2 linked regions of the Homo sapiens genome follow. The protein of the gene in region 1 purifies or fractionates together with the protein of each later gene. This does not show direct contact. Each region holds a gene or a part of one and is shown in the gene's direction. Other genes may lie near its edges. The genes, in order: PRR19 and HIBCH.

What was found.
Region 2: the proteins of PRR19 (region 1) and HIBCH purify together in Homo sapiens (affinity purification with mass spectrometry; one large-scale study listed by BioGRID and IntAct). This does not show direct contact.

Annotation. Positions count from the first base shown.
Region 1 is NC_000019.10:42,300,670-42,305,242, forward strand, and holds the start of PRR19 (proline-rich protein 19), read left to right. Parts: upstream 1-1,462; 5' UTR 1,463-1,562; coding exon of another isoform or gene 1,563-1,640; 5' UTR 1,641-1,834; exon of another isoform or gene 1,835-1,955; intron 1,956-2,029; exon of another isoform or gene 2,030-2,131; intron 2,132-2,454; exon of another isoform or gene 2,455-2,709; intron 2,710-4,573. Other genes in the region: PAFAH1B3 (platelet-activating factor acetylhydrolase IB subunit alpha1), read right to left, coding at 1,281-1,370, 1,563-1,640. UniProt on the Homo sapiens protein: Promotes meiotic crossing over formation through its interaction with CNTD1 by participating in the crossover differentiation step of crossover-specific recombination intermediates.
Region 2 is NC_000002.12:190,208,037-190,211,847, reverse strand, and holds part of HIBCH (3-hydroxyisobutyryl-CoA hydrolase, mitochondrial isoform 1 precursor), read left to right. Parts: intron 1-2,934; coding exon 2,935-2,968; intron 2,969-3,811. UniProt on the Homo sapiens protein: Hydrolyzes 3-hydroxyisobutyryl-CoA (HIBYL-CoA), a saline catabolite. Has high activity toward isobutyryl-CoA. Could be an isobutyryl-CoA dehydrogenase that functions in valine catabolism. Also hydrolyzes 3-hydroxypropanoyl-CoA.

The DNA of each region.
Region 1 (4,573 bases):
ACCACGTCCAGCTAATTTTTTGTATTTTTAGTAGAGATGGGGTTTCACCATGTGGGCCAGACTGGTCTCGAACTCCTGACCTCAGGTGATCCACCTGCCTCGGCCTCCCAAAGTGGTGGGATTACAGGCGTGAGCCCATGGTGCCCAGCCTATTTATTTTTTGAGACGGAGTTTTGCTCTTGTTGCCCAGGCTGGAGTGCAGTAGTGCGATCTCGGCTCATTGCAATCTCTGCTTCCCAGGTTCTGGCGATTCTCCTGCCTCAGCCTGCCAAGTAGCTGGGACTATAGGCATGTGCCACCATGCCCAGCTAATTTTTGTATTTTTAGTAGAGACAGGATTTCGCCATGTTGGCCAGGGTGGTCTCGAACTCCTGGCCTCAGGTCATCCGCCTGCCTTGGCCTCCCAAAGTGCTGGGATTACAGGCGTAAGCCACCACACCCTGCCTAGAGTCTCTCACTTTAAACCAAGCCCCAGGCTCTGTTGCTCATGCTGAGGTGGGCGGACTGCTTGAGCCCAGGAGTTCAAGACCAACCTGCGCAACAGGGCAAAACCCCATCTCTACAAAAATTACAAAAATTAGCCAGGTGCATGGTGATGTGCACCTGTAGTCCCAGCTACTCGGAGACTAAGGTGGGAGGATCACTTGAGCCCAGGAGGCAGAGGTTGCAGTGAACAGAGATCATACCACTGCACGCCAGCCTGGGTGACAGAGCAAGACCCTGTCTCAAAAACCAACCAACCAACCAACCAACCAACAAAACAAACCAAGCCCCATAGAAGCAAGACTCACTTCATGAAAATCCAGTCTGCTTGAGCCATGCATTGAATCAATGGCATTACAGTTGAAACTTATTTTGATGAAACCCATTACAGTTGGACATGCTTTGTGGAAAGATATTATTATGATTGAGTCCTCTTTGTGGAGTGCCATTAGAGTTGCCCTTCGCTTCCTGTAAAGTGACTATAGCTTTGTGTAAACCCAACAGGGCTGCGCACTACTTAAAGCAAACAAGAAAGAGCCTCACTTTAGGCAAGCCTATGGCAGGAAAGCCTCATTTTAGGTCTTAGTACATTATACACAAATCCAATCTGATAAAACCAAGGCATACATTTCTTTCTCAATAGAATGTTGCACCTTACACCAAGATTCTCAGAGCCTCGGGCTGCCTGAGGCCAATCTGGGTACTCTCATAATACCTCACCTGGCCTGGGTTCTGGTCCAGATGTGTCAGCATGGACACAGGGCTGGATGGGGCAGGGGGAGAGGGACTGCCCTCACCTCGCACTGGTGCATGAGCTGGACCAAGGAGTCCCCGATGAAGACGACTTCGGGTTCCTTATCTTTGCTGTCAGCCACGAACCGATGGTGCTGCGGGAGCGCGCGAGAGGGAGTCAATGGCATGCACGCTCCAGGGCCCGCCCCGCCCTGCTCCCTTAGGCAGCGCCTCCTCAACTGCCCTCAGTTTCCCAATCAGGTAGTGAGAGTGGCACGAACCAGCCGTTCTCCTGAGCCACCCCCCGCGCCCCCGGACTCCTCAATATCCCAGGTGGGAACGCTCACCAGGGACATCCAGCGCCCGTCGCCCTGTACGTCCTGCACCGGCGTGGGCTTGCTGGCTGGGTTCTCCTCTCCACTCATCTTGGCGCCGCAGCTCCTGCAGGATGAGCGAGTCGGGTCGGCCCGGGAGTGTTCCGAACGGAGCTGGCTCCGCCACGCCCACTCCTACCCCTCGCGGCAACAAAGGACCGTCCCAACGCTAGCACACCCGCGGAGGACGAAGGCCGATACAGGGCGCCGCCTCCTCTCCAGGGACGGAAGCCTTCACTTAGGAGGTAGGTGGAATCAGGAACCTTCGCTTCCCCCACGACGGCCGCACAGTGGGCTCGCCCGGCGCTTCCCGCTCGGGCCGCTGACTCCCAGGCCGCGCACCCGGCACGGGGTGGGGGGAGGGAGAGGCGAGACCATCCAGCTCCCGAGGCGGGGAGGAGGGAGAAACCACCCACCGGTCACGGGGAGGGGCGAACTACCTGAAGAGTCGAGAGTGGGCGGGGAAAATCTAGCCCTCTGTCTAGCAAATGGGAAGAAACCATTTGCTGTACAGAGTGAAATGTGCGGAAGGGACCACCTACTGTTGCGGGGGGGGGGGTGACCCATTCACGTGGTGGGGGGAGGGGAGCGAGTGGACGAGTCCATTCTTATATTCCCTTGAAGGGGTGGCTCGAATGCACCTGGCTGGGGGGGACGCTCCTATTTTCTACTGATGTGGGGGACAGAAAAGGAAGATGACAAAATGTGAAAATTCGAGGCTCCCTTCTAAGGAGCCACTCTAAGGCCGCGCCAGGGCTTTAGTGAGCCTATCTACTCGTGGGCTTCCCCTACTCAAAACACCGTGGGTGTGTGTGTGTGTGTGTGTGTGTGTGTGTGTGTGTGTGTGTTGAAATCTAAAGTACATATCTTTGCATTCAAGACATCACAGGACCCCTACTCAAAACACCGTGTGTGTGTGCGCGCGCGTGGCATAACATATAAACTACATATCTTTGCATTCAAGACACCATAGGACCTGCTTGGAGGGTAGAAGAAGGTGCAGAAAGAGAAAGGAAATTAGAGACGCCTCCAGGGCTCAGGTCCAGTCTGGCGTCCCTCCGGCAGATCATCTTGCAGATCTGCAGCCTCTACACTCTCTCTAAACCCACAGGCCAACTGGGTATGTCTGAGCTCTGAAACCTACATCCATAGCCAAGGCCACCTAGGGTCGCGCCTCTCCCCCAACGCTGCCCCAAATTAATCTCAGACCTCAGTGTCTTCTCAGATCTCCCTCTTCTCTGGGACCAGGTGGGGGGCTCACTCCCTGCTAAACGTCCTGGTCATGTTCTTGTAGCCTCACTCCAGGTGGGACCTTCCCATGTATTCATTCCTTCGAGGTGGATTGATACTGAGACAGAGATGAGTGTTATTCATTGTGTTTATGTTTTCAATCCACTTTCCTGGAACTGGGCCGGGCACACAGTGGTTATTCCACAAGTGCTTGCTGAATGAGTAGTAAATGAGTGGGTCAGCTCCTGACCTTGTCCCAATGTGTTTAGGGAGACAGATCCAGACACAGAGGTGTAGGGGTGTCAAAGTTGTGTTTGAGGGAGAGACAGGGACCTCTGGGGAGGAAGAGGAGAAGGACTCTGAGGACTATGGGTTTCCTAGGAGTAGTATCTCAGCTGGGTCTGAAAGATAATGAAGAATGGGCAAGCAGAAAGAAAAGACACAGGTAATCACTTTCTTATTAGGTTTGGGGAATATCGTGGAATAGCTTGATTTTAAAGTCTGAGGGAGGCCAGCATGGAGGCTCATGCCTGTAATCCCAGCACTTTGGGAGGCTGACATGGTCGGATCACTTGAGGTCAACCAGCCTGGCCAACATGGCGAAACCACGTGTCTACTAAATATACAAAAAAAAAAAAAAAATTAGCTAGGCATGGCAGCACACGCCCGTAGTCCCAGCTACTTGGGAAGGCTGAGGCAGGACAATTGCTTGAGTCTGGGAGGCAGAGGTTGCAGTGAGCTGAGATCGCGCCACTGCAGCCCAGCCTGGGCAACAGTGGCCCAGCTTGGGTGACACAGCGAGACTCTGTCTTAATTACAAAAATAAACAAACAAATAAAGTCTGAGGGAGCCAGGTGCAGTGATGCATGCCTGTAGTCCCAGCTACTGGGGAGGCTGAGGTGCGAGGATCGCTTGAACCCAGAAGTTTGAGACCAGCCTGGGTAACACAGTGAGACCCTGTCTAAAAAAAAAAAAAAAAAAAGGCTGGGCGCGGTGGCTCACGCCTGTAATCCCAGCACTTTGGGAGGCCGAGGTGGGCAGATCACGAGGTCAGGATCGAGACCATCCTGGCTAACACGGTGAAACCCCGTCTCTACTAAAAATACAAAAAATTAGCGGGGCGTGGTGGCAGGCGCCTGTTGTCCCAGCTACTTGGGAGGCTGAGGCAGGAGAATAGCGTGAACCTGGGAGGCAGAGCTTGCAGTGAGCCGAGATGGCACCAGTGCACTTCAGCCTGGGAGACAGAGCGAGACGCCGTCTCAAAAAAAAAAAAAAAAAAAAAAAGGGCAAGTGCCTGTAGTCCCAGTTAGTTGGGAGGCTGAGGCAGGAGGATAGCTTGAGCCTGGGAGATGAGGTGGCAGTGGCCCATGATGGTGTCACTGCACTCCAGGTTGGGTGACAGAGTGAGTCCCTGTCTCCAAAAAAGAAGTCATAATCAGCTAGGCACGGTGGCTCACTCCTATAATCCCAGCACTTTGGGAGGCTGAGGTGGGCAGATCACTTGGCGTCAGGAGTTCAAGACCAGTCTGACCAACATAGCAAAACCCCATCTCTATTAAAAAATACAAAGATTAGCTGGGCAAGGTGGTCTGCGCCTGTAGTCCCAGCTACCTGGGAGGCTGAGGCAGGAGAATCGCTTGAACCCGGGAGGTGGAGGTTGCAGTGAGTTCAGACTGTGCCACTGCACTCCAGCCTCAGTGACAGATTTAAATTCCATCTCAAAAAGAAAAGGAAAGAAAAGAAAAGAAAAGAAA
Region 2 (3,811 bases), on another chromosome or scaffold:
CCCAGGCACTGTGCTCAGTGTTAGCCTTATATTGTTGAATAAGAAGACACAGTCCTTTATTTTCATGGGTTTAGTCTACTGAGACTACAAAGAACAAGTAAACAAAATAAGTAAAATAATTATAAATTGTGATAAGTACTCTAAAGGAAAACATACAGGGTTGGTGATAGAAGAGATTATGCAGGGACAGGAGGGAGTTGGGGGGCAATGGGAAACCTCCTTAAGTAGATCAGGGAAGACATCTTTGTGATGTCACTTCATTTGTGACCTAAAGGATGAGAAAGGAGTATGTTGAGAAGACTCTTGGGCTTAAGCAGGAGGTGATTTGATTTTTCATTTCATTCGGTTCAATTTGCTTTAAGAAGGAAATTGTTGCTGCTGTGTGGAGATAGGGTTGGAGAGGTTCAAGAACGGTTTAGAGACCAGATATAGATTTCCTGCAGTGATCCAGGTGTGAAATAGTAGTTTTGAGACAAGCATGGTGGCAATTGAGAGAAGTAAATGGATTTGAGACACATGTAGGAGATAGAATAGATAGGACTTGCTGGATGTGAGGGAAGGAATGCATTTAGGAGTTAGAGATTAGAGGAATGAGTTGGAGATTTAAATCTGAAAGACACCAACAGCAATTAAGAAAACCTTGGGGATTCGTTATTTACTAAACAAGAGTGCTTACTATGTCGTAGACACTGTTAGAGGTACCCAGGTACATAGGTTCCAGGTACATAGGTGTGCTCCAGGGGTTGAGGTTGAAAAGGCAGAAAACAGTTTAAATCATTATCTTGGGGAGTAGGGAGTAGGATAACACCTGCCCTCATGGAACTTACTTTATAATGGGGAAATAGACTGTAAACAAGATTAATACATAAAATATATATTATATGATTATAAATATTAACAAGAAAAAGGAAGCAGGATATGTGATATAGAGTAACAGGGGGATGAATTGTAGATGGGATGACCAGAGAAGGCCTCACTGAGATGTTCTTTGAGTGAATTCCTGAAAGAAGTAAGGAAGTGAGCCCATGCCATTATCTAGAGGAAGAGCATCCCAGGCAGTGGGAACTGCAAGAACAAAGCTGTGAGGCTGGAGCATGACTGCCTGTGCTAGGGACCACAAAGAGGCCGTGTGGAAGCGGATGGGGGGCAGAGGTTGTGGTGAGTGAGAGATGAGGTCAGAGGAAACAGTGTAGAGAAAGGCTGTGCAGAGCATACAGAGCCTTGAAGGTCTCTCTAAGGACTTTGGCTGAGTAAAATGGGAAGCCACTAGGTGATTATGAGGAGAGGAATGCCATGATCTTATACTTTAAAGAATTGATCACTCAGGCTGCTATGTTGAGCACTGAATAGGTAAGATCATATTATAAAGAAAATGAGAGTCCAGACCTGAGCCCTAAGGAACTCTAACATTTTGAGGTGTGGTAGAGAAAGAGCAGTAGGAAGGAAAAAAAGGATGGAGAGGTAGGAGGACCAGGAGAGTGTAGTGTCACAAAAGAAAGTGAGGAATGTTTCGGGGAGGAGGGTGTAATGGACAGTGTTGAACGCTGTCAAAGTGTAGACGAGGTTAGAAGTGTCATTTGACCTTGGCGATGCCGATGTCATGGGTGGTTTTGGCAAGCCATTTTAGAGGAGTGGGGGCAGAAGTTAGAGTGTAGTAAGTTGGAGAGGAAAAATGGGATGTGAAGAAGTGGAGAGAATATGTGTAGATGAATACTCTTGAAAGTGAAATAGGATAGAAGCTGGGACTGTGGAATCAAATGAAGTTCCTTTTTTATTTTGTAAGATGGAAGGTACTAGAACATGTTTAAAAATGATTGGGAATGATCCAATAGAGAAACAAGATTATGTTGATGATACTAATGGTAGTTAATATTTACTGAACACTTAGTGTCGGACACTGTGCTTGGATGTGGATTAAAATAATCCTAGGATGGATATATAAATTACCTTTTCATGTAAAGAAACTAGGGTTGGAGAAATTACTAGTCCGAGGTCACATAGTTAATATGTAGCTATCAGGATGTGAACCTAGACATTTGAACTCAGCTATATTGCCTACATCGATGATTCTAGGAAAATAAAAGTGAATGACCACATCAAGCAAAGTCCATCCTTGAGAAGGCAAGAGGGGATGTGAATTGGAATGCAAGGGAGGACTGGTCTTTGAAAAAGGGATGGTCCTTTCCTCCACGGCATTGAAAGAGAAGGCAGGTGCAGATGGCCACAGTTGCCTGCAGGTGTTTTAGTGGTGAGAAGACAAGACTTCATATCTAAGAGCTTCTCGTATTTTTAAAGAAGTCAGAGGTTAAGTAACTGGCTGAGACTATAATAAGAGTGTGCTCTACGGGTAGAGGTTGAGAAGGCAGAAAACACTTAAAATCATTATCTTGGGGAGTTGGGAAGAGATCTTGGATTGTTTGGCAGTTTTCTGTGCCTGTTTGAGATTTTTGATCATGAATTTTAAATGAAACCAGTCACAGTTGTATGATTTTCTGCAGCAAGACTTAGCTGCTGAAGTGCAGGCAGGGGTACGTGATAGGGTTTAGTTGGTGCCAGGATTTTGCTAGGATTGTAAAAAAGGAAAAAAGGTTTGAGGGAGATGATGACATTTTGACAGGAAAGTGACCATATTAAAGGACTGGTGAAATTGGGCTGGATGAAGAGCAAAGTGAAGCCAGCACAGATGGGGAGAAAGTCATAGGATCTGTGGACCTCAGTAAGATCAATGATTTGTAGCAGTGGAGATACTTGAGCAAATAAGATTTAGGAGGTGGTGATCAGAGAGTGGGCTATCAGAGGTGGTTCAGTCTCTGAATGTCATGGTTCAGGTTGTGGCCATGGGAGTGGAAGGCTGAAGTGAATAGAGGAGAGAGAAAATAACCCAGAATAAGGACACCCAGAAATTATCCCCATTTAATCTCAATTTTCTTTCAGAGAGGTCATGACTTTCATGAAGGCGTTAGAGCTGGTAAGTGGCAAATGGGAACTTACCATTTTGGGGAAATGGGATTTGTGAGCATATGCTGTTAATTAAAGAAGATACAGATTATGCATCCCAAATCCTAAAATCCAAAATGTACCAAAATCTGAAACTATTTGAGCACCAACATGACACTCAAATGTTCATTGGACCATAAGTATAATGCAAATATTCCAAAATCTGAAAAAAAAAAAAAAAATCAAACCTGAAACACTTCTGATCCCAAGCATTCCAGATAAAGAATACTCAACCTATAGTTGTTTTAGTAGTGAAAATTAAACTTTTATTAAGATTGCAAAGTTGTGTATGTTTTTAAAGAATATGTTACCATCTGGGATATGAAAAGGAAGATCAGTCTTTGAAACTGATAATTGTTTTAAAAATTCACATAACTTGGCCACTGTTTCCTAATTTATATATAAGGTAATCCTGCCCCTACAATCATGGACTGCATCTGATAAGTGCAGCATTGAGCTTGTAAACTCATCCTGCTGCCATCCTGCTGCTGTGGCCTTTGAAACATGCATTTATTACCTTACAAAAAGCCCTCAAATCCCCTACCCTTTCTCCCTCTTTCGTGCTGGCCTGGCAAAATTGACCAGTGGTCTAACCCTACTTTCCACCTTCTTGCCTGTACCTCAGCAGTTAAACATTGCTGGGGAAAAAGACCATATGATGTCATTAGTAACATCTGCAGATTGTCTTATTAATACTTTCCATTTTGCTTATAATCTCCAATGTCAGCATATTTAGAAAAAGCAAGTGAAGTGCTTGACGTGCTTGACTGTTTTTTCTAGCATACTTGCAACAATTCCTTTTTATGCATAATTC